7 linked regions of the Homo sapiens genome follow. The protein of the gene in region 4 interacts with the protein of the main gene of each other region in a biochemical or structural test. Each region holds a gene or a part of one and is shown on either strand. Other genes may lie near its edges. The genes, in order: GOT1L1, GJC1, PTPRG, GRIP2, MTMR1, DUSP10 and SMCHD1.

Region 1 (3,344 bases), on a different chromosome or scaffold from region 4:
CCCAAATGCCCTGGGGCCGCCACTCCTGGGTGGGGGTGAAGCCTGATGAGACCGTCTGTACCTGCAGCAGATCCCACATGGCTGTGTCCTTGTGATGGGGAACATTATCGACTGCAAGTTGACACCAAGTGGGTGGGCAAAGTTGATGTCCATGATAAAGGTAAACCCAATCTCCCACCCGACCTTCCTGTCTTTGACTCTCTGCTCTCTCCTCCATCTGTCTCATTCTTTTTTTGTTCTCCTTTCTCCTACAGAGCAAGCAGATATTCCCATTTTTTGATATTCCCTGTCAAGGTTTATACACCAGTGACTTGGAAGAAGATACTAGAATCTTACAATACTTTGTGTCTCAAGGCTTTGAGTTCTTCTGCAGCCAGTCTCTGTCCAAGAATTTTGGCATTTATGGTATGGTACAGGCAGAAGAAGGGAGGGTCTGTTGCTGAAGTGGTGCTGCGCTCACAGCACAGTGATGTTTTTGATATCTCATCCTTGGGAGGGAGCCAAGGACTCTAGGGAGAGCACTATAGAAGCAGAAGTGGGGAGCACTGAGCTAGAATTTGGTTCTGTTACTAAATCTAGTAACAGAACCCAACCCAGCTTGGCTTGGATCATTTCACCCCCTCAGGCCTCTGTTTCCTCAACTATAAGATGAGAGGGTGGGGCTGGCATGGTGGGTGACACCTGTAATCCCAGTTGACACCTCCTAATCCCTCCTTTGGGAGGTCAAGGTTAGGTGATCACTTGAGGCCAGGAATTCAAGACCAGCCTGGGCAACACACCGAGACCCGGTCTCTACAAACAATTAAAAAAATTAGTCGGGCATGGTGGTACACACCAGTAGTCCTACCCACCCGGGGGGCTGAGGCAGGAGGATTGCTTAAGCCCAGGAGGTAGAGGTTGCAGTGAGCTATGATTCCACCATTGCACTCTAGCCTGGGCAACAGAGAGAGATGGTCACTTTAAACAAATAAAAATAAAAATAAAAATAAAAAAGGAAAGGAAAGGAAAAAACAGGAGAGTAGAACTTAGTGATCTTTCAAATTCCTTCCTCCTTTAAGACTCTGACTTATGGGTACTTTTGCTGGAAGGAGAGCCTCTGGCAACTTCCCGGAGCCTGAATATCACCCTGGCTGGGCTGCAATGAGGGCCTTGTGGTTCAACCCTTTCTTCTGCAAGGTTGGGGGTTGAGATCTAGGTGAAGGCCTTGGGAGTGGAGGAAGGGGCTGAGGCTGAGGCTGTCTTCCCAACACTGCAGATGAAGGAGTGGGGATGCTAGTGGTGGTGGCAGTCAACAACCAGCAGCTGCTGTGTGTCCTCTCCCAGCTGGAAGGATTAGCCCAGGCCCTGTGGCTAAACCCCCCCAACACGGGTGCACGTGTCATCACCTCCATCCTCTGCAACCCTGCTCTGCTGGGAGAATGGTAAGGGTGAGGGCTGGAGCAGGAAGGGATGGGAGAGGCCCTGGGTGCCTGCAGACCTGCTGATCTGCAGGATTCGGCAGGGTGCTTCTCTCCTGCCCATGTGGCCTTTTTACTCCATTCATTCATCAACATTTACTAAGGACCTGATGTGTACCAATGGCGGTGGCTATGCCAAGGGTTGCCTTAGGGGACAGAGTGATAGGACATTTGTTTTGCACCCAGGCCAATGAGTTATATGAACTCTTCCAGATTGCTTGGGGAGATAAGAGAGCATCAGGGGCTTGCAACTCTGGCAAAATCTGCCTGGGAGCCTCCCTGGTTTGCTTAAATGAATATGAGATCAAACCTCCCTCCCACTCATAATCATCCCAGAGCCTCTGGCACTCTGTTGGAGACCTTTGAAGGTAAGAAGAGTGGACTGGCAATGAGGGAGGTTTGAGGGCAAGGGGGACCTCACACCCTCCTTTCTCATTGTCCTTCCTTGGTAGGAAGCAGAGTCTAAAAGAAGTTGTAGAGAACATCATGCTAACCAAGGAAAAAGTGAAGGAGAAACTCCAGCTCCTGGGAACCCCTGGGTCCTGGGGTCACATCACCGAGCAGAGTGGGACCCACGGCTATCTTGGACTCAACTGTAAGGGTCTAGGGGGCTGGTGTCCCCCCTTTCTGACCTTTGGCCTGTATTTGAGCATTAAACTTCACTGACTAGGTGACCAGTTCCTAGCTTCACTCCAGATTTTGATTCTGTCCTCTGGAAAATGGGCTGCTTTAAAGACACTTCTGGACCCCCAGAAGTACCGACACTCCCTATCCTTCATAAACCAGCCTGGGTGCCCGGTGCAGTGGCTCATGCCTGTAATCCCAACACTTTGAGAGGCCGAGGCGGGTGGGTCACCTGAGGTCAGGAGTTCGAGACCAGCCTGGCCAACATGGTGAAACCCCGTCTCTACTAAAAAATAAAATATGAAAATTAGCCGTGCATGGTGGTGCATCCTGTAATCATAGCTACTTGGGAGGTTGAGGCAGGAGAATCGCTTGAACCTGGGAGGCGAAGGTTGCAGTGAGCCAAGATTGCACCATTGAACTCCAGCCTGGGCAACAAGAGCAAAACTCCATCTCAATCAATCAATCAATAAAAAAATAAGAAAATAAACCAGCCTGGGCTAGAGGAGAATTCGAGATGGCCAGTCTCGAGATCTGAGACCTTGTCATGATTTTAGCCCAGCAGGTGGAATACCTGGTCAGGAAGAAGCACATCTATATCCCCAAGAACGGTCAGATTAACTTCAGCTGTATCAATGCCAACAACATAAATTACATCACTGAGGGCATCAATGAGGCTGTCCTCCTCACAGAGAGCTCAGAGATGTGTCTTCCAAAGGAAAAAAAAACACTGATTGGAATAAAACTTTAGTCTTTGCAAAAATCTTGTGCTGATTATTCATTACTACAATTCATTTCTTTGCTTATTTATGAAGCAGTGGTCTGGCCTCAGTACAGAGAAAGAGACAGAGAGAAAGAGAGAGAGAAAGGCCCAGAGGGGAAGGGTGTATCTACCTTCATTGGCCATCTCATATTTATTGAGCACCTACTACATTAAGGCCCTGAGCTGGCCGTGAAAGGGAGTACAAAAAACAGGTAGAAACCAGCCTGTTTTCTCCAGACACTTACAGTCTAGTTGGGAGACAAGCCTTAGTCACATAAAACACTTAAGTAACATTTTAAGGCTGAATGTGACAGAAGTCAGAATATATAAACAGAAAATGTGCCAGGAATTTAGAAAAGAAATACGTCAAAGTGGGCCAGAATAGATGGGGAGCATCTCATGAGGAGGTAGCACTTGATTGGGATATTGATAGACAGATGAATGGATTGGATGAATAATAACTAATAGAAGCTGGAAGGATATCCTAGGTCAATAACAAC
Region 2 (3,500 bases), on a different chromosome or scaffold from region 4:
CTCTGCCTTCCAGGTTCAAGGAAATCTCATGCCTCAACATCCCGAGTAGCTGGGATTACAGGTGTGCACCACCATGCCCGGCTAATTTTTGTATTTTTAGTAGAGAGGGGGTTTTACCATGTTGGCCAGGCTTGTTTCAAACTCCTGACCTCTAGTGATCCACCCACCTCAGCCTCCCAAAGTGCTGGGATTACAGGTGTTAGCCACCATGCACAGCCGAGAACTTTCTTTTATTTGGACTCCTGATTTTAGAATACCATGGTTTCTTTTAAAAAAAAAAAAAAGTACGATTATTAACACTGATTAATAACACATGAACCAAACCCACTTAATATCATTATTAAAAACAGGCTGGGCACAGTGGCTTATGCCTGTAATCCCAGCACCTTCGGAGGCTGTGATGGGAGGATTGCTTGGGCCCAGGAGTTTGAGACCAGTCTAGGCAACATAGTGAGAGCTCTGTCTCTACAAAAAATACAAAAATTAGCCAGGTGTGGTGGTGAGCACTTGCAGACCAGCTACTTGGGAGGCTGAAGTGGGAGGACTGCTTGAGCCAAGGAGGTCCAGGCTGTAGTGAGTTGAGATTGTGCCATTGCACTCTAGCCTGGGCTCAAAACAAACCCCAAAAAACAAAACCAAACATCAATAGAACTACATAGGGACAACAGCAAATACAAATCTTTAAACACTTCATGATGTGGCCGGAATGAGTACAAGTATGCAATTCAATGATTCCAACATTTGATGGTGACTGTGAATTATTACATATTTATTACACATAAATGAGTTTAAATTTTATTTCCAAACTGCATGCAGGGACTTTATTATTACTATGAATTTTTTTTTGAGAGTTTCACTCGTTGCCCAGGCTGAAGTGCAATGGCGCAATCTCGGCTCACTGCAACCTCTACCTCCTGGGATCAAGTGATTCTCATCTCAGCCTCCTGAGTAGCTGGGATTACAGGTACCCACCACCACGCCCGGCTAATTTTTGGTATTTTTAGTAGAGACGGGGTTTCACCATGTTGGCCAGGCTGGTCTCAAACTCCTGACCTTGTGATTCGCCCACCTTGGCCTCCCAAAGTGCTGGGATTACAGGCGTGAGCCACCATGCCTGGCCAAAACCTTTGATTTTTAAAAAGGCGTTTCTTGAAGTACCTTATTAAACATTTGATTTGAAGGAAACTGTGCATGTCTAACATACTTGCCTTTTACAGAAAGCTGGCTAGCCAAAAATGTATCATCAACTATCGATTTTATTTTCAGAAGTGGACTGTCTCTTAAATGAGACAGCATAAAGTATGGACTTGTAGAAGCTGAACGAGTAAATCATGAGTGTAACTGATAACATGTAAGTCCATTCTTCGTATAAACTGCTAGAGAGTGTTTCAGACCATCACTGATGTCTGTGATAAAGAGCACCAAAGCATCACAGTCCAACTTTTTTTTTAAGCGCCAAGTTCAAACAAGTGACCAATAATAATGGTTGGTCCTTGAAGGTCTTTTACCAGAGGCCTTTTCTAATCACTTCGTAACACTTCTGAGATGTACATGGCTCCTGAAACTTGAAAACAAAGCCACAAAATGAACATTAACATTTCTTTAGGGGAAAATGCTATCTAATTTTCCCCTCGTTTGAATTAACCAAAAAAAAAAAAAAAGCCTATTTCTTTTACAAATCTTCTGAATAACGGGTTTTAAGAGCAGGCCAGGCGCGGTGGCTCACGCCTGTAATCACAGCACTTTGGGAAGCTGAGGTGGGCGGATCACGAGGTGAGGAGTTCGAGACCAGCCTGCCAGCCTGGCCAACATGATGAAGCCCTGTCTATATTAAAAATACAAAAAAAATCAGCCTGGTATGGTGGTGGTGCCTGTAATCCCAGCTACTCGGGAGGCTGAGGCAGGAGAATCGCTTGAACCCAGGAGGCGGAGGTTGCAGTGAGCCGAAATCACACCACTGCACTCCAGCCTGAGCGACAAGAGCAAGACTCTGTCTTAAGAAAAAAAAGAGCAAAGGACACACCACATCTGCATAAATCCAAGTGTGTTAAGGAACATAATCATGTTGATTGTATCCTGATTCTAGCAGGTGAAGGACTAAGCACTCAACTTGTATTTGGAGGAGAAGCAAGTGTCATGATGGAGCATGTCTTATATGGCAATTCAAAACAGTATGATTCTGATGCGAGTGAGAACTAAATGTTGGACAGGCTTTTTATACAAATCCCACCTGCATGATCCAGAACAATATTCTTACAGATTCAATGCAGACTCCACCAATGGGTTAGCTAGACATCAACAGGCTCACTTTCTTTTTTTCTTTTTTTTTTTTTGAGACAAGAGTTTCACTCTGTCTTGCAGGCTGGAGTGCAATGGTATGATCTCAGCTCACTGCAACCTCTGCCTCCTGGGTTCAAGCAATTCTCCTGCCTCAACCTCCCAAGTAGCTGGGATTGCAGGCGTCCACCCAGCACTCCTGGCTAATTTCTGTATTTTTAGTAGAGATGGAGTTTCACCATGTTGACCAGTCTGGTCTTGAACTCCTGACCTCAGGTAATCCACCCGCCTGGGCCTCCTAAAGTGCTGGGATTACAGGTGTGAGCCACCGCGCCTGGCCCATTTTCTTAATGTAAGTCCACAATATGTCATTAGGGGAGAATGACTTTGGCAAACTCATATGCTTCAAAGGCAGAAAGACATGTACTAAGAAGGCAGTTAGAGCTGGAAAATTCTTGACATAATTACAACTTTAGCAAGAGAATAAAAATAGATTTTAAAAGTGTGTGCATGTGGGGAGGTGACAGAATATCTTTATATGTACTTTAAGAAGCTGACGCGTTATCCAGACACAAAAGATAACATTCTCATCAAAACAGGCCAAGATGAAACACCAGGGGCACTCTTCACAGAAATTAAGTGGATGCTTCTGGCGCCAAATGTCTTTGCCTGGTTCTTCCTGGCATTTCTGCTTGACTCCTTCCCCCTGTATCATTCTCAAATCCCCAGCCTTTCCACTGGGCAAAGCCACTCTCTTCTCCCTCAGGCTCTGAAGAGATAACACAAATGTATGGACACTTTTTGTCCTTCAATTAAAAAACCTGCTGGAAGCTCCAGTGATGTTAAGAATTAACTGGTAGTTCTTTATCTTAGCTAGGCTTATGTATTCCAAATTTTGCCTGTTTTCTTGGAATTATATGAATTTCCTTATTAAACATTTGATTTGAAGGAAACTGTGCATGTCTATTAATTACCCATGAGGTACATGTGTATTTCTGAAATTTCTCCTTCAGTCTCACCTGAGTTTAATTTTTGCCTAAGATGTTTAGAGTTCCTGAGGTGCTTCTCTAGGCTAAAATTTAAAGATTTTTTTTTAAAAAAGCAAATAAAAGTAAATGAATGGCTAAAAGATAAGGTTAAATTTTCTAGGCTGGGCATGGTGGCTCACACCTATAATACTAACACTTTGAGAGGCTGAGGCGGGAGGATCACTTGAACCCAAA
Region 3 (3,500 bases), about 48 Mb from region 4:
ATGCCGACCCCTGAAGTGGAATGTCCCCTTAGCACCTGACTCAGGGCTGAGCCAGAAGATGCAGTCAGTAAACCTTCAGCAATGAGTGTTCACATACTGAGTTTCTGAGCAAGATTCAACCTGAAAAAAGAGTTTCCCTAATTTAAGGAAACAAAAATGGAAAATCCCAGCACCAAATGATGAATTTGTAGATGATGCCCACTCTGAAATGTTTTTGTAGGGTATGCTGTACTGCATAGTACCCCCAAGAACATTTCATTGCATCAGTTGGCTTCTGGGCTCACGCTGTGGCTCCTCAGGATGGGACCACATGCTGGATTTCCATGTAGCAGACATCCAGCTGAGGGCTTTGCACTAAAGAAACGCTAGAAAAAAGCCTGGTGAAAGGGAGGGAGTACACCTAGGCCTTCAAGCCTTCTGAAAGGCTTCTCAGGAAGTTGCAACTCTAGCAATCAACACTACAGTAGAGGTTGACCACCCGCGGTTCCTACCTGGCCCAGGGATGGGTTTAGTTTGGCCTACATTTTTAAAAAGCAGAAATTGTTTTAAAAATTTGAGCTTACTTAAAAGTTGGGGGGTTCTGCACAAAAACCTGGATTTCTGGCTCACTAGGCATTCTCACTGGCAGTAATCTGTTGGAGCTGAGTGAGATGGCCCTCTTTAGAAAAGTCATGTGCTCTTTAATTTGCTGCAGTCCTTACCACTCCCTAATGTCTAACACCTGGTCCTTGTTTCTCATTAGTATTAACTGGTTTCTGTAGGTGTCTGGGTTTGCCACTTCTTCTATAGAAGGATTCCCTTCTTCTTCTTCCCTGGGAGATAATATATTAAAGCCACTACTCACAGGACTTAAAAATATGTTATGAAACACCAAAGGGATTTAAACAAGCTGTTTGGAGATACTCATAAAAATATAACAGTGTGTAACTTTACACATTATCACTCTTTTCAGAGACCAGGTATTGATTAAAGTAATTGTTTTTCCTTAATATGAAGAAAAAATAAATGTGTAACAGATTTAAAGCAAATGTACACACAAAGTCCTTAAAATAAATCACTAACATTAAAATGATGGCGATTTCATTAAAAAATAAATACCATACTGGAGGAGGCAGACAGGGCAAAGGACAGGGTGAATGGAAGTGAAGCAAGACCTGAAGGATCATTGACTGATGTGGGATTTGCTTGTTTTACCTTCAGGTCACTCACGTCCTTTACTAATCAACAGGCACATGCAGATTTCTGTGTAAACCAGGGGTTGGCAAATGACAGATTGTGGACCATATCAGACCCATCGCCTGTTTCTGCAAACAAAGTTTTAATTGAAATACTATCACATCCTCTCAGCTGTGTATTGTCTATGGTGGCTTTTGTGCTACAAGGCAGAATTAAGTAGCTGCAGCAGAGACCTGTGGCCTGCAAAACTGAAAAACATTTACTCTCTGGCCCTTAGCTGAAAAAGTTTGCTTATATCTGGCTTAAACAATCATCACCACCATTTTCAGACTTGAACTGCTTGAAATTTTCAAGGAAGTTTTTTTTAGCTTTCAGAAGTGGACCTTCTCACTTTGCTGAAGGTGATAAGGGAAAGCTCTGATTTACCAGTGTTGAGTTTCAGGAGGAGGTCCTTCTTTTTTTTTTTTTTTTTTTTTTTTTTTGAGACAGAGTCTTGCTCTGTCAGTGGTGTGATCTTCTCACTGCAGCCTCTGCCTTCCAGGCTCAAGTGATCTCCCACCTCAGCCTCCCGAGTGGCTGGACTACAGGCATGAGCCGCTGTGCCCTGCTAATTGTTGTATTTTTTCTAGAGACGGGGTTTCACCATGTTGCCCAGGCTGGTCATGAACTTCTGGATTTAAGCGATCCACCCTCCTTGGCCTCCCAAAGTCCTGGGACTACAGGAGTGAGCCACTGCACTCGGCCATCTGGAGGTCATTTTTAATGGCAGTTACTTGGGGACCAGTAGCTTTAATGTCCACAGACAATAGCAAAGGAAAGGGCTGTGGGGGGCCTCCTCACAGTCACCATCATTGTGTGGCACCTGGGCTGCTGACAGCTCCTATTTGTCAGTGACAGTGAGGGGGTCTCCACAGCCACACCACCTTCGGCATTAAGCATGATCATTAGCTCCACTTTGCAAACGAGGACACGGGACTAAGACTTACCTGAGGACCCTGAGTGAATAAGGGACAGAGCCAACTGGGTTGATCTGACTCCCAAAGCCACTCTGCCAAGATTGTAGATGCTCTCAGATTTCTGTAGGGTGGAAGCCGAGGACCTACACACCTCATACCTGGAGTAGGGAGCCCCCAAAGTTTGCCATCCATTTCTTCTCCCCTGTCTCTGGAATCTGGAACCTGACTCCAATGGCAAGAACTCATTTCCACTTACCTGGGGCGGTCCCAGTCCCTGCCTCTCTCCCATCTCTCAAACTGTAAATACTCCCAGCCTAAGCTCTCAGCAGCCACATTTTTCAGGAATGTGGTCAAACAAATGTTTAAGAGGAGCAGGCTGAGAATGCTACTTTGCCAGAGCCCATAGTCCAGAGGCTGAACACTCAAGCTTGAAAGTCAATTCCAAGTCCACCACCTGTCTTCATAGAAAACACACTGGTCCAAGCCACCATTACCACTGCCTCCTAACTGGGCTTCTTTCATCCATTCCTGCCTTCCTATATCATCTCCACGCAGAGGCCTGAGAGGTCTTTCAAAAAATCAATCAAGTAACACTGCAGCCAAGATCTACCCTGGTTTCTCATTTCTAGTAGAAGGAAATCCTCAGCGTGGTCAACGAGTACCTTTCCAGAGCACCTCCATCAATCTCTAAATCCATCCCCTCCTCTCCCCCTCACTCCCTCTGGTCTAACCACACTGGCCTGATAGCTCCTCAACTGATCCAAATTAATTCCCCACTGTAGGGTCTCTGGACCTGCTGTTCCTGCAGCCCAGAATTCCCCTCCCTGGATCTTTGCATGGCTAGCTCCTTCTTACCACTTGGCTCTCTGCTCAGAGGTCATCCTTGACCACTCAGAGCTACACTGTCCCTCCGCTCCCCAACTGTAGCAATTAAGGCTACTTAAGGGTATGTATTTGTTTACTGGCATATTCTCAAGCTCCCCTACCAGAATGCAAACCCCAAGAGAAGAGAAGTCTGTGTTACCTATGTTCTACTGCCAAAGCCTAGCCTGGTGCCTCTTATACAGTGGGCATTCCGTACATGTTTCTTCAGCGTCTTCAAATGCAAGAAATTCAACTTTTTCAAAGTAATTCCTAGAGGGAATGTCACTGTTCTTACAGAAACAGCTTCCCAAGTGGCCCCACATTTCCTTCACTCAGTTCCACAAAAGGCTACTCTGCACCTTTCCCCCAGTCACAGCTAAAGTGAGCAATACCCACAGGAGACCCCCACTTCAAAAAATTAGTTCATAGCAGCTTTAAGAGGAAAGTAATTCAAAACATGAAAATTTATTCTAAGTTGTATCTTAACATACGAGATCTCAGCTT
Region 4 (3,500 bases):
ATCTTCTATCCTTCCTGGAGGCCTCTGCAGCTCATGTGGCAGGAGGCTGAGAACCCTTTCTGCATCAACAAAGGAAAGACTGTTCCCAAGAAGGGTTTCAAAATTTTAGGCATTATTGTGTTTTGCCACTTCCACAGGGCTCCTGCCTTATCATTCACTACTTTTGTCTTCTATTGATTTACTTTTCTTAACATGTAAATATCTTTATTTCAAAAGGGCAATTTTGAACAATAAATAAGCAGAGAAGTAAGACTGGAAATTATTACATTCTGGACAGCTAGAGTCTCAGGCCATGTCTTTGTCTTAGGGGAAATTAACAAATGGCAGAGAGGTGGTAAGGATATAGTAACGCAGCACTGAGGCTTTATCCATGAATGAATCAGGACTGAATGGCAAAAAATGTGAAAACTTCATGCACATCTGAAAAGACTTCCTTTCCTCAAGGACGTTATCACCAAATCCTAGGAATTTTTCATAATAAAAATACAAGAATAAAAGTGTACAAAGTAACTGGCACCTCTCAGTGGTCCTCTTGAGCAGTGCACAACCTGCCCAACCATCCATGACAGCCTGGTGTTCCACTCATGTTATTTAACATTCCCACGCATACACCTGGAGCTCTGCCCAAAATACCTCCCCTCGCCCTGACATACACCCTTTGGCAAGCCTCACTCTCAGACATACAAGCAGCCCAAGGAGGAGGGAAGAGACCACAGCTTACACGAGCTCTTGTGTTCCCTTCTTCGCTGCCTCCTCCGCCCCATTGTAGTTCGAGGACTCATGGGCTGGGATCCACGGGGAAGGGTGCTGGGGTTGTTGCAGGAAAAGGCGTGGTTCAAGGTCGGCGAGGAAAAGGGAGTTGAAGACAAGGCTGGGGAGATGAGAGCACAGCCCCGTGAACCCCAGCCGAGGCTCTCCACCCCACCACACAGTGGGTGCTGGGAAGCCACCCAACCACAGGGAGAGATGGGGATGCCTTCCCCCTTCACATCAGTTACTCATTGTGTGACCTCAGGCAAGTCCCTTTCCTCTCTGGGTCTCAAAGACTGCAGGGTTTCCATAGACCCTGTGAAACTCAGCTATTAGGGACGGGGCCAATCTTGCCACTGGCATGCTAGATGACAATGAGGCAGGCCACCTAATCTCTCTCTCTTTTTTTTTTTTTTTTTTTTTTTTTTAGTTGAGGTCTCGCTCTGTCACCCAGGCTGAAGTGCGGCGGTGTGATCTTGACTCACTGCAGCCTCAACCTCCCAGGCTGAAGCGATCCTCCCGCCTCAGCCTCCCGAGTGGCTGGGACCACAGGCGTGCACCACCACACCCAGCTCACTAATCTCTGAGTCTGAGTTTCCTTCCCTTAGACAACAGGCATCGCCCCCTCCCTAGGAAAGGCTACAAGACTGGCTGAGCTACAGCAGGGCAGGCACATTACATCGGCTTTGGTCCTGGCCAGCAGGTGTGGCCCAGGTGGGCATCCTGCAGTGGCCGGGCCGGGGGCTGTGGCAGGAGGGCACGCAGGGGTCCCAGCGGTGCAGCTGCTCACTCCTCTGCACTTTCACTGTAGCCAGCGGAGAAAGAGGAAAGAGAGGTGCAGGCGTTAGTGGCTGAGGGCACTATGAAGCCAGGAAAGCAAGAACCAGAAGATCCTCGTGCTTCCCCTGAGCCAGGCAAGGCATTTAGTATTCTGCTCACATGTCCCGGACGCCTACAATGTGCCGGGCACTGTGTTCAGAGTGCAGCTGCTGCCACATGGCAGCCTGAGAGGCAGGGACAGGAGAGAGAAAGGAAGCCAGGCCGAGGCCCACTGCTGGGAGGTTGTGGAGCAGGGATTTGAACACAGGCATCCTGCCCTGGAGCCGGAGAGGTCTATGGCTATGAGTGCTGCCATGAAGTTTCTCCAAGAAAGAATTGGTGAGGAGTGCAGCTGGCAGACGGTGTCCAGCTGCAGCACTTTGGGGATATGCAGTGGCTCTGCAGCCCAGGCAGCCTCGGCCAGTGGCTGAGCACCGGGGCACTAGGGCCTGGCTATTTCTGCCCCACGACTCTCCAGGACAGCCTTTGCTCCAGGGCTTCCTGCTGGGTTGGCCAAGGCTGAAGTGCACCACGGGCTGAGGCTGCTCCCCCTTCCCAGGCTGCAACCCTTCCCAGCCTTATCCACAGTGAATTCTTTGCACTCCTGTTCCAAGTTCCCAGGGAACCCCCACTGCCCCGACCCCCTAGGAGACCCTGCTTCCTCCATCTGATCCTCCAAACTGGCCACCATACAACACCTCTTCCCAGACCGCCCCAGGCCAGCTCTCCTCTTGCGCGGATGGACAGGTGAGGACTCAACTGTCTCAGCCCGTTGATTCTGTCTCCTTGAGCCACATCTCCACAGCCCCCCTCCCCAGGGCTTGGCCCACTCTGGAGCCAGTTGCCTGGGTCAAATCCCAGCTCTGTCCCTGACCAACTGCGGGACCTGGAGGAGTCACTTCGCCTATCTGTGCCTCAGTGCTATTATCTGTAAAATGGGACCAAGAGAGTGGCCACCTCCTCGGGTAATGGGGAGGGTTAGAATGAGTTAATAATATAACATGCTTAGAGCAGTGCCTGGCACTTAGTAGAAGCTCAGTTAATGAGAGCCAAGGGGTTGTACGCAGATGTGTAGCCTTGCAACGCTACCTCAGCTTTCCCTGTAAAGTGGGAGGACAGTAAGACTAAGCTCAGAGAGGTGTCATGAGGAAGTAATGAGGCGTGCAGGCCGCGGCACCGAACCTGGCACGTGGCAGATGCTCGATAAATGGTACGAGAATGAATGACGCTGTTTCAAGCCCTAATGTCACCCAGACCAGTCCCTGGACTGTGGTTCATTCAGTGTGGCTTTTTCAGAAGCTGGCAGAGACCATAGAGATGGACTCTCCCCAAGAACTGTCCTCCCAATCAGATGTGGGGGATTCCGTTCTCTTCCAGAAGATGGGGTTTGCAAAGGGTGGGGTGGACAGACTCCTTCCTCACCCTCCAGCTCTGCCCTTAGGGCTAGGATTTATAGGCCTGGGCTGTGCCTTGTCCTTTATCTCCGTCAGCCTCCCCCATGTCTGTGCATTAGAAGTCCTCCCTCCTTTTTACAGATGAGATGACTGGGACTCAGAGAGGGAAAAGCACTTGTCCAGCTGCTGGGAGCAAAGATGGGACTTTCACTCAAGGCCCAAGGTTTGGGCTGCTGGACGTGCTTTCCTGCCCTGAGCTGAAAGCTGCCCCTCTGTGGCCACCCCCCACCCTGCCCCTGGCCCCAACTGTGCCCTCTGGACCCCCAGACCACCCACTTCCTCTGCTCTTGGAAATGCCCAGCACCCAGCTCCCTGCTCATAGCTGGGAGACCCTGACTCTTCAAAGGAGAAACTCCAGGCCCTCTCTAACTTCCCAGCTGCCTCCTCTGGATCTGCTGAGAGTCACTGAGAAGAGCCCAGGATCTAAGCTCTGAGTAGCAGAGAGCACAGGACTGTTCCCTCCCTCATTCTAGCCCT
Region 5 (3,106 bases), on a different chromosome or scaffold from region 4:
AGGCCCGGGTGGTTGGTGGAGTGTCATGAACATTAGCAGAAAATCCAACAGAACCATGCCTGATCTGGAGTGCCTTTGGCTAAACAGAGCCTCTCGATTACTGCAGGAGACCCCCGTACCCCTGCCACGCTCCCCCTTGTGCAGCAGGTTGCAGAGGTGAAGAAATGCTGAACCAGCAGAGAGGGTTAGAGTGGTGTCCCACAGGGGTGCACCCAGGCTCAGATTCTTGCCCGCCGCGTGAGGCAGGTAACAGACCTTTCCTAAAACCTACAAACTGCGCGACAGATCTGTTCCCAGATGTGGTCAGGTTCTCACTCATGTAGGCGAAGCCACCTGCAACATCATGATGATGATGGAAACCACAGCGACAGCGCCTATAACCTGCAGTCCTCTTGTGTGCCAGTGGGTTCTGTACACACATGATCCCAGTTAACGCTCCCAGCAATTCCACGACGTAGAGAATGAGGGAAGGGTCAGAGAAGCAGTGACTTGGTTGAAATCTTGCTGCCCAGTGCGTGTAGTTGTGGAAGGATGCCCCCGACAGGGCCAGATCCCGTCTCTGGCAGTGACTCACCGCCTGATCTGCAGCAGGGTCCTGAGCCTCACGGGGACCTCACAGGGGGTTGCTGAGCAGGAAGTGAATCCATTCCAAGTGCACTGTGCTCGGAGGGTAGTAGGTGTGTGGTCCTGCTTTTTGCATTCTCCCTCCATTGTGCTACACAGAAGAGAGAACCAAAAAAGAGTACATGGGCCGCAGCTTGTTATCCTGTATGCAACAGGCATGTGTCGGACACCTCCTAGGTGTGGGAATGGGGGTGGGGGAGTGCATTGAAGACAGGCAGAGATCAGTGGCTGGTGTGGGTGTCCAGTGACAGGGCCTGAGGAGCCAGGTGAGGCAGAGAGAAGGAGGAAGAGAGGGGAGGGGAGGGAGTGCAGGGGGGTAAACGACAGGGCAGATGCAAGCCTGTTGGGCCTCTTTTCTCTGAGAAGGCAGTGGCTCGATTGGCTGCCGAGAAAGGGGTTCTTTGGGCATCCATCAGAGGATGGCTGGGTGTGGAAGGCCCAGGGGCGTCCTATTTCCTTTGGGACTGTCTTGCCTTATGTCTTGTGATGCTAGTACCCATGCGGCAAACATGACTGGCCCTTAGATGGGAATTTTCTCTAACACAATCCTCTGTTTAAGCCTCCGAGTTTTCTATTCCTTCAGGCATGCCCTTGATTTGTTGCAAATGAAAATATGTGAGTAGGCCAGGCGCGGTGGCTCACGCCTGTAATCCCAGCAGTTTGGGAGGCCAAGGCGGGCAGATCACTTGAGATCAGGAGTTCGAGACTAGCCTGGCCAACATAGTGAAACCTCATCTCTATTAAAAATACAAAAATTAGCCAGACACAGTGGTGGCGGGCGCCTGTAATCCCAGCTGCTCAGGAGGCTGAGGCAGGAGAATCGCTTGAATTCGGGAGGCGGAGGTTGCAGTGAGCTGAGATCGTGCCGCTGCACTCCAGCCTGGGGGAGAGAGTGAGACTGCATTCCGCCTCAAAAAAAAAAAAAAAAAGAAAAAGAAAAGAAATAGGTGAGAAAAGATGCAAACAGCTGGTGAAGAGATGATAGTGGTGCGTTTGAGCAGTGCTGGGTCTGCCCTGGGTGTGTGTCAGTGGTGTATTTCCCTGCGTGTCTTGCTTCTTGCTGAGGTCACATGCCTGTAGATGGATAATGGGAACTTGATTGCAAGGCGTCCCTTGTCTGATCAGAATTAAATGATCCTACAGACAGGAAAACGCATGCCAGATGGGTCCTAAGGGTAAGAGAGGAGCTGGTGCCACCTCCCAGAGGCCTGTGGGATCTGCCTTTGCCATCACACTCCACTCCTGTCCCCTCTGTTCTTCCTGTGGCCTGCCCAAGGGGGTCATTTCTTCTCAGCCCACTGGGTGCTGGTTACTGAGCACCTTGTTATTAGAGGGACCTGGCTGCCCCCTTGCGGTCTCGCTCTCATCCTCCTTCCGTCTCCCCCTTCCCTCCAGGAGGGCTGATCACCATTGGCACACACGGTGGAACAGCTCAGTCTTTGAGGGAGTGGGGGAAGGACCTGGTGAAAGATGAGCCAGAGGGCCAGGCTGGGGCCAGACTGCAGAGGGCCTCGAGGCCCCTCTCAGGGCAGGGGGAAGAAGTCCCTGGAAGGTGTTAAGTGGCCAGTCACATGGCCTGGCTGAGGCTTAGGAGCCAGCCCTGTGGCTGCTGTTTACACATGGGATCAGAGACAAGGGAAGGCTAGGGAGCTCCCCAGACCCCACCCTGTTTCTCCCTCAGCCCAGTCGGTGACCCCTCACTCTGGTCAGCCTTGCCCCCAGCCAAAGAGCTCCAGGTGAGAAAAGCTGGGTCTCGGATGTCTGGCCTCCTAGTAGCTGCTGGGGACAGCTTGTTAGGCGAGTGGGTTGGGTGCTATGACTATAAAATAGCAGGACTGGATGTCCCATATGCCCCGGGAAAACCTTTCTTGTTTATATTCACCCCTGCCCCACAGTTGATGGGTTTAAAAGAGAAAAGCTAATTAAAGGTGAGGCCTTGCGGTGATGCTGAGCAAGGAGGGAGGGGTTGGTCCTTGGGGAGGCTCCCCACCCCCCTGCCGGCACTGCCCGCTCCGGGGGGCTTCTGGCAGATCCTGCTCCGGTTGATGAAAACACAGCTTCAAGTTGTAAAAAGTGCTGATTTAACAGAAGGATTTTCAGTCAGCAGAGCTATTTATAAAAATGCAAAAATACAGAGATAATGGAGATGCTGGAAAGGGGTCTGCGTGGAAACATTTCTGACGCACAGTCTTTAGGACACTGCTCGTGCCGAGTCTGCACACGGCGCCCTCGGTTGATCCATGGTGCGCAGTGTCCCCGTGCCTGCTTGTCTTCTGAGAAACTGTGGGAGCCTCCCCATGGTGCCTTTTCATCCCGGCTCAGCGGCTCGGCCCCCGGAGCTGCAGGGCGGCCTCAGTGGCAGCCAAAGCTCATGGGATGGGGTCCCATTGTCCACCTGACGCGAGATCGGTCAACGCCTCAGGAGACTTTGGCCGCTCCAGGAGTCTGGATGGTGAAAAGCTCCTGAAGCCAACAGCATCTC
Region 6 (3,500 bases), on a different chromosome or scaffold from region 4:
GTTGTCTTTCTTGCATTTGAATGATAAGCATTGTGATGCAGATTGCCCAGCCTGCAGATTAGTGCCTAGCACACCAAAGGCATTCAACAATATTTATTGAACAAACAAATGAATCTCCTCTGCCCACAAGTTTGTACAGCTGTGGAGACCACCTACCAAAAAGTCCCTAGAAGCCTAAGATGGTTGGGCTTCTTTGATACCTGTTTTGATAGCTGTTAACAGCTGAAACCACTAGGTTAACAGCTTAAACCACTAGGTTCCCCAGATGAAGAGATTAAATCAACATTAATATTTGGTCCATATTCTAATATCCAGGTAAATATATAGACCATGAACTGCTGGTTTTGAAAGTCCTCAGACTTTGGTCTTTTTAGTTCTGAACTGAAATCTCAAAATTCAAGAAAAAAGGCATCAGTACTCAAAAAATCTTATATTTTATGCTATATATTAGATTCTGTTGTTATTAAATAATGATACATACGAATACCTCAGTCTGTTGATATCTATTGAATCTGTTGAACCTGGCAAGACCTACTTTAACATTAAGGACTAAATCTCTAAAATTAATCATGCATGTGACCTTGGACAAGCCCCATTCCTGTAGTGGCATAATGAGAATACCGGACTAGATCAATGGTTCTCAAACTTTGCTGCCTGTTAGAATCACTTTGGGAGCTTTAAAAAAATCTTGATGTGCAGGCTGCACCCCAGACCAATTTAATCAGGCTTTCTGGACACACGAACTGGGCATCATAGGTTATAAATCACCTTCAGGTGATACCAATGAACAGCCTGCAGTGAAAACTACTGGATTAGGGGCCCTCTAAAGTTCCTTGCTCTTCTCAAAGCTGGGATTCTTTAGTTCCAAAAAGGTGAGATGACCTCTCCTGGAACTAGAATTTCTCTCCTTAATATGTAGTCTATCTTTTTCAACCAACTTGGATTAAACTGCCTAAGCACTCCGATATATCACACATTCATGCCCAAACTGCTCTTCAGCAATGCTGGGGCTTGGAGGTTCTGGCTTCTGATAATGCAGGGTTTAAGGAACTAGATTTTTGCTACTGGTCAAAAGCTCCCACTTAGTCCCTGAGGGTGTATGCACCAGGAGTATGTGACGGAAAGTTTTTCTGCTCCTGTAATTTTGTCAGACCTTCAGATGGGTTTGCCTAAAGGACCAAGTAGAAAAGTGTACATATTCACCATTCTCCCTTCTCCTTTCTCCTATACACACGTGCTTTGAAAACAGAAATAGGCAAAGTGCTTTACCTATTCAGTTTCCTTCCCCTGCTTTGCTTTTCTAATGTGAAATCATGTCTCCTATTGCCAGGAGAGGAGTTTCTTGAACTTGTCCATGACAAGCTGGATGATTAAGTTAATTAACTGTTCTGAATTGGTAAGGGCAAGAGTATTCATACTTAACAGGCTCCCACAGTACTGTGCTTAGAACGACTTGCCCATCCTCCCCAATACCCCTGCCCCTGCAATGTAAGAGGTTCTTACATTAGTGCATGAGAGTAGGAGAGCAGGGTCCAGAGGCTTGATTTATTGACAGCCATCAAATGCCAGGTACTTTGTATCACCTTGTTTCAACCTAGGATGCTGGAGCTGTCCCTGTTTTACAATGAAGAAAACCTGGCCTCTGAGAGGCCCCCTGATTTGCCTAAAGGCATACAGTTGGTCAATGGAAATGCCTAGATTTGAACCCAGGTGTAAGTGAGCAAAATTTCACTCTGCTGAGCACATCGTGAATGAGGAACAGATAAAGCAAGAACATGGCTGGGAGAGAGAGTTCATTTCTATTATCTGTTCACCTACACTTAAATTAGGAAGCAGGAGAGTGTACCCAAAAGCTCAGAGAGAGGACAGCCAACTAACTGTGCAGCAGTTCAGAAAGAAGTTTCAGGACTTCCTGAAAGACAGGAGCAGGCCATTCAACTCCTTCCCTCCTTTTTCCTTCACATTCTAACTCAACACAACCCTAGGCTCAGGAACCAGCGCACCCCTCCTTCCATCTACCCTTTTATAGTCAGTCCACAATCCTTATTCCAAAAATAAATCCTCCTGATGAGATGATGAGAGGCAACAAAAAGCAAAGCTAAAAAGTTTTATGCTTTTGTTATGGGACATTATTTGGACAGAATTATTATCATGTTTTTACAAATTTCCCTAAAACAAATAATTCTGGATATACCCAAATTACTCCAGCCTCCTGGCCCAATATGTTTTTGCAATTACTTGGCACTCCAACTCTATGCAACTTAAATTAGTTAACAGTCACCAAGTTATTTTTAGGCCATAGCAACACACACACTCTACTATACCTAGCTTGTTATTTGTACTCCTTAGGAACAAAATTTGCCTTTGTACTGGCACTATCATTTCCTTTCAATCAATATCAATAAAAACATTCTACCATATTTATGGAGTGCTTACCATGTATGTGTATAAAGTTCTGAACACTTTACACACATTAATTCATTTATTTCAGAAACTAACACTTTGAGATAGCTATTGTTATATCCTCTTTTTGTTAATGAGGTAACTAAGGAACTGAAGGATTCAGTTCCTTCCCCAAGGGCACATACCTAGTTAGAGGGGAGCCAAGGCTAGCATTCAGGCTGACTAGATCCGAAGTTCTGCCTTGATTTCTCCATCATTTGCTACAAGGCTAATGTTTGACATTTTAGCCTTGGATGTTAACCAGAGGCTCAGAATAACAACAGCACGTTTATGAATGTAGATATGTCTTTATTTCAGGTATTTTTTAAAATCCTCATAACATCTCTGAGAGAAAAGGGGAGACTTTTATTCCCTTCCCCACCCCACCCCCGAAAAAAGGGCAGAAACAGAATATTTTTCACAGGTCTCTGATTTCTGAGCCTAGCCATCCACTTTGTCATAGAACTCTATTGCCAATAAGAGTATATTTCAGAATTCTTTTCAACTAGGGAAAAGTGTGCAATGTATGGTGCTCAATTCTAAGGAGTGATGAAGTTTTATAGTATAAAGGCCTAACTGCCTGCATGATCAAATCCTCCCCATGGATCATCCTTTTAAACCATTTCCCTCTTCTTCTCACATTCCCCCAGTAAAGGCCTTTGGTACAGAGCAGTCCTATAAAGATTGTAGCAGTTGGTCATTCCTTGTTTTACAACAGCATAGAGCAAGTAGAGGCATGGGCTCTGACATACCAGGGAGGAAGGGGGACACACAGACCCCAAGGAGGCACCTGGAGCCCTCCTACTCCCAGGGAGGGAAGCTCCTCTGTAGACCTGACTGCCAGTCAGTCACAGAGGGATTCGAAGTTGAAAAGCACTTAAAAATGGGTACATGACACTCAAGTGTTTACGAGTGAAAATGTTCATAGTATACTATAAAATATTTCCAGCTTTATTGAATTTGAAACATTAATTTACACATTAAACATACTTAAATACATTAAAACATTATCTATATTTTTAAATATTTCAACAGAAAAGAGAAAGCAAATAGGAAAA
Region 7 (3,500 bases), on a different chromosome or scaffold from region 4:
GCATTTTATAGCACGGAGGGAAGAACAGCCATGCTTTGTAAGACATACAGGTCCATTCAAACGAATAACTTTAAAAATTAAAGCAAATTATAAATTAGAGGGAAACTGGCCAGGCATGGTAGCTCATGCCTGTCATCCCAGCACTTTGGGAGGCTGAGGCCGTCGGATCACAAGGTCAGGAGTTCAAGACCAGCCCGACCAACATGGTGAAACCCTGTCTCTACTAAAAATACAAAAATTAGCCAGGTGTGGTGGCGCACACCTGTAATCCCAGCTACTCAGGAGGCCAAGGCAGGAGAATCACTTGAACTGGGGAGGCGGAGGTTGCAGTGAGCCAAGATCACACCACTGCACTCCAGCCTGAGCAACAGAATGAGACTCCGTCTCAAAGAAAAAAAAAAATTAGAGGGAAATTGCAACAAGAAACAAAAGGGTGACAAGGATCAACAAAGAGAAAAAGTAAAAACACAAAAAAATGAAAAGGAGAAAATACAAATGACCAATGAACACATGAACTGTAAAATCACATTAATCAAAAAATGAGAATTAGAAAAGTGGTTAACATTTTCATTTACATTAGAATTAAAACATACATGCTCTGTCTAAAATGAAACAATACAGCAATATATAGTTAAGAGAAAAGGCTTCTGTTTCGGGTAGTAATGGACTAGTCTAAAGATTAACATTCTTATTGAAAACATCTAAAAAATCTAGACTAGTGATACTCAAATCTTCAAAAATGATATTAATAAAAACCATTATTGCTCACCACTGGGATGAGCTAGGGCACCAACTTGTCACTCTGAACACTGACAAATTAAAGGGAAAGAACAAATTATTTACACTGCTTTTCTTGTATCAATGGTACTTCAGGATAACCAAAATAGCTCTGGCTGATGAGGCAAAGTTGTTCCTTAAAGAATTCCAGCTAATAAACACAGGAGGAATGGCAAGTCAGATCAAAACTTCCTTATGGAGGAATCCTGCTGAAATCACGTGAATCCCAAGATTTTAATGTTAGCATTGCTATGAGTGGGTGAAACACCCACACATCACGTGCCTCCCAGTGTAATGCCATATGAAGTATCAGTACTACCTACAAAGCATTCTTTGCCTCCTGACCCCAAAGAAGTTGAACCTAAATCAAATCAAGCCTTTAAAGCTAACTTTTAGTTTACAGAATACATACGGAGATAAAACAAATTAAGTAACACCAAAAAAGAGCACAAACAAATCCATAATGTGGAATATTAAAGACCTAGTTGATTTCTTCAAGAGGTCAACTGCAGGAAAACTAAAGAGACTGGTGGAGGAGGAATTTGCTCAAATGCTTTAAATTGAAAATAATTAGGAAACAAAAAAAAAACAAATTTAATGTGAGGACTATGTCAGATCCTGATTTAAACAAACCAACTATAAAAAGATACTTTTAAACATTCAGAGAACTCAATATGGACAGGGACATTAGACAATATTAAAAATGCTTTATTTTAATGGTTTGATAATACATATTCAGGCTGAAGTATATGGGGTGAAATGACCTAAGACCTAGAATATGCCTTAAATACATTACAAAAACAAAAATGATCCTAGTGTGGTAAATTCCTATTAACTTGAATCTGGATGAGTACACTGGGGTTCATAACATGATTCTCTCTTTGTGTCTGAAGGTTTTCATAAGAAAATTTCTACTTTAAAATATCCTGGAATAGGCCGGGCGCGGTGGCTCAAACCTGTAATCCCAGCACTTTGGGAGGCTGAGGAGGGTGGATCACGAGGGCAGGAGATCGAGACCATCCTGGCTAACACGGTGAAACCCCGTCTCTACTAAAAGTACAAAAAAATTAGCCAGGCGTGGTGGCAGGCGCCTGTAGTCCCAACTACTCGGGAGGCTGAGGCAGGAGAATGGCGTGAACCCGGGAGGTGGAGCTGGCAGTAAGGTGAGATCGCGCCACTGCACTCCAGCCTGGGCGACAGAGCGAGACTCCGTCTTAAAAAAAAAAATTCCTGGAATAGACCAGTGGAAGAGAATAGAGGGCCCTTAGACAGGTCCACATATATATGGATGCAGAGCCTAGCAAACAAGAGAGGTGACATTACAAATTGGTGGGGAAAGAATAAACTATCCAATGAATGATATTAAGACAACTAGTTATCTCAACATGGAAACAGATAAAATCCACACCTTAACTTAGACAAAAATAAATTCCAGGAGAATTAAAGCAGTTGTACATTAGCCCAAAATTGTAAAAGAACACATAGGGAAATAATTTTGAGTGAGCATAAAGGGATTTCTGAAAAGGTACAAACAGTGGGCCAGGCACAGTGGTTCACAGCTGTAATCCCAGCACTCTGGGAGGCCAAGGTGGGCGGATTGCTTGAACTCAGGAGTTCAAGACCAGCCTGGGCAATGTGGTAAAACCCCATCTCTACAAAAAATGGAAAAAAAAAAAATAGCTGGGCATGGTGGTGCACACGTGTAGTCACAACCACTCAAGAGGCTGAGGTTGGACGATCCCCTGAGCCTGGGAAGCCGAGGCTGCAGTGAGCCGTGATCACACACTACTGCACTCTAGCTTGGGTGACTTTTGAGTGAGACTCTGTCTCAAAAGATGCAAATAGCACAAGTCATAAAGAAAAAGACCAGACAACATAAAAAGATCAACATCACTAGTTATCAGTGAAATTAATATAACTTATTCTCATCAGGTAGGCAAAAATGTTAAATTCTGAGCCCATCAAGTGTAGGCCTCTGTACAGAGAAATAGGTACCTTACACACTGCTGATATGACTGAAAAAAAGTCAAACATAAAGAAAGTAATTAATTTGGCATACTTTAGTAAACTTAAAAGATACTCATATTCCATGCAATTCCACCCTAGAGAAATAAAGCCATGAACATAAACTGACTGGGAAGATTCTATTTGTTTAACAGAGACAAAAATGACCTTATAGATTTTTATTAGGTTTCATATAACCATGACAGTCGTGTATTTTTTAATTCATTACTACTTTTTTATTTCTATGATGTCCCTTTTTTTTTTTTTTTTTTTTTTTGGTTTTTTGTTGTTATTGTTGTTGAGATGGAGTCTTGCTCTGTTGTGCAGGCTGGAGTGCAATGGCACGATCTCAGCTCACTGCAAGCTCCGCCGCCCGGGTTCACACCATTCTCCTGCCTCTGCCTCCCAAGCAGCTGGGACTACAGGCGTGTGCCACCACACCTGGCTAATTTTTGCATTTTTAGTAGAGACAGAGTTTCACCACGTTGGCCAGCTGGTCTCAAACTCCTGACCTCAGATGATCTCCCTGCCTTGGCCTCCCAAAGTGCTGGGATTAGAGGCGTGAGCCACCAGGCCTGGCCAATGTCCCACTTGTTAAATCATGTAATTATGCATCCTGTAGTTACTGAAAAACTATGTGCAAATGATTTTTTTAAGATCTATGTTCACCTAAACATATCTAATTATTCCATATAATCCCACATAAGTCTATTATTTTT

The links.
Region 1: the proteins of GRIP2 (region 4) and GOT1L1 interact in a test that uses a peptide from one of them, tested with the Homo sapiens proteins (one large-scale study listed by IntAct).
Region 2: the proteins of GRIP2 (region 4) and GJC1 interact in a test that uses a peptide from one of them, tested with the Homo sapiens proteins (one large-scale study listed by IntAct).
Region 3: the proteins of GRIP2 (region 4) and PTPRG interact in a test that uses a peptide from one of them, tested with the Homo sapiens proteins (one large-scale study listed by IntAct).
Region 5: the proteins of GRIP2 (region 4) and MTMR1 interact in a test that uses a peptide from one of them, tested with the Homo sapiens proteins (one large-scale study listed by IntAct).
Region 6: the proteins of GRIP2 (region 4) and DUSP10 interact in a test that uses a peptide from one of them, tested with the Homo sapiens proteins (one large-scale study listed by IntAct).
Region 7: the proteins of GRIP2 (region 4) and SMCHD1 interact in a test that uses a peptide from one of them, tested with the Homo sapiens proteins (one large-scale study listed by IntAct).

Annotation. Positions count from the first base shown.
Region 1 is NC_000008.11:37,933,781-37,937,124, reverse strand, and holds the end of GOT1L1 (putative aspartate aminotransferase, cytoplasmic 2), read left to right. Parts: intron 1-67; coding exon 68-160; intron 161-254; coding exon 255-405; intron 406-1,255; coding exon 1,256-1,421; intron 1,422-1,670; exon of another isoform or gene 1,671-1,825; intron 1,826-1,909; coding exon 1,910-2,052; intron 2,053-2,638; coding exon 2,639-2,832; 3' UTR 2,833-2,844; downstream 2,845-3,344.
Region 2 is NC_000017.11:44,799,288-44,802,787, forward strand, and holds part of GJC1 (gap junction gamma-1 protein), read right to left. Parts: 3' UTR 1-3,500. UniProt on the Homo sapiens protein: One gap junction consists of a cluster of closely packed pairs of transmembrane channels, the connexons, through which materials of low MW diffuse from one cell to a neighboring cell.
Region 3 is NC_000003.12:62,205,071-62,208,570, reverse strand, and holds part of PTPRG (receptor-type tyrosine-protein phosphatase gamma isoform 1 precursor), read right to left. Parts: intron 1-3,500.
Region 4 is NC_000003.12:14,516,343-14,519,842, forward strand, and holds part of GRIP2 (glutamate receptor-interacting protein 2), read right to left. Parts: intron 1,556-3,500; coding exon 1,430-1,555; intron 872-1,429; coding exon 722-871; intron 1-721.
Region 5 is NC_000023.11:150,759,396-150,762,501, forward strand, and holds part of MTMR1 (phosphatidylinositol-3-phosphate phosphatase MTMR1), read left to right. Parts: intron 1-3,106. UniProt on the Homo sapiens protein: Lipid phosphatase that specifically dephosphorylates the D-3 position of phosphatidylinositol 3-phosphate, generating phosphatidylinositol. Could also dephosphorylate phosphatidylinositol 3,5-bisphosphate to produce phosphatidylinositol 5-phosphate.
Region 6 is NC_000001.11:221,732,090-221,735,589, forward strand, and holds part of DUSP10 (dual specificity protein phosphatase 10), read right to left. Parts: exon of another isoform or gene 3,346-3,500; intron 1-3,345. UniProt on the Homo sapiens protein: Protein phosphatase involved in the inactivation of MAP kinases. Has a specificity for the MAPK11/MAPK12/MAPK13/MAPK14 subfamily. It preferably dephosphorylates p38.
Region 7 is NC_000018.10:2,662,226-2,665,725, reverse strand, and holds part of SMCHD1 (structural maintenance of chromosomes flexible hinge domain-containing protein 1), read right to left. Parts: intron 1-3,500. UniProt on the Homo sapiens protein: Non-canonical member of the structural maintenance of chromosomes (SMC) protein family that plays a key role in epigenetic silencing by regulating chromatin architecture.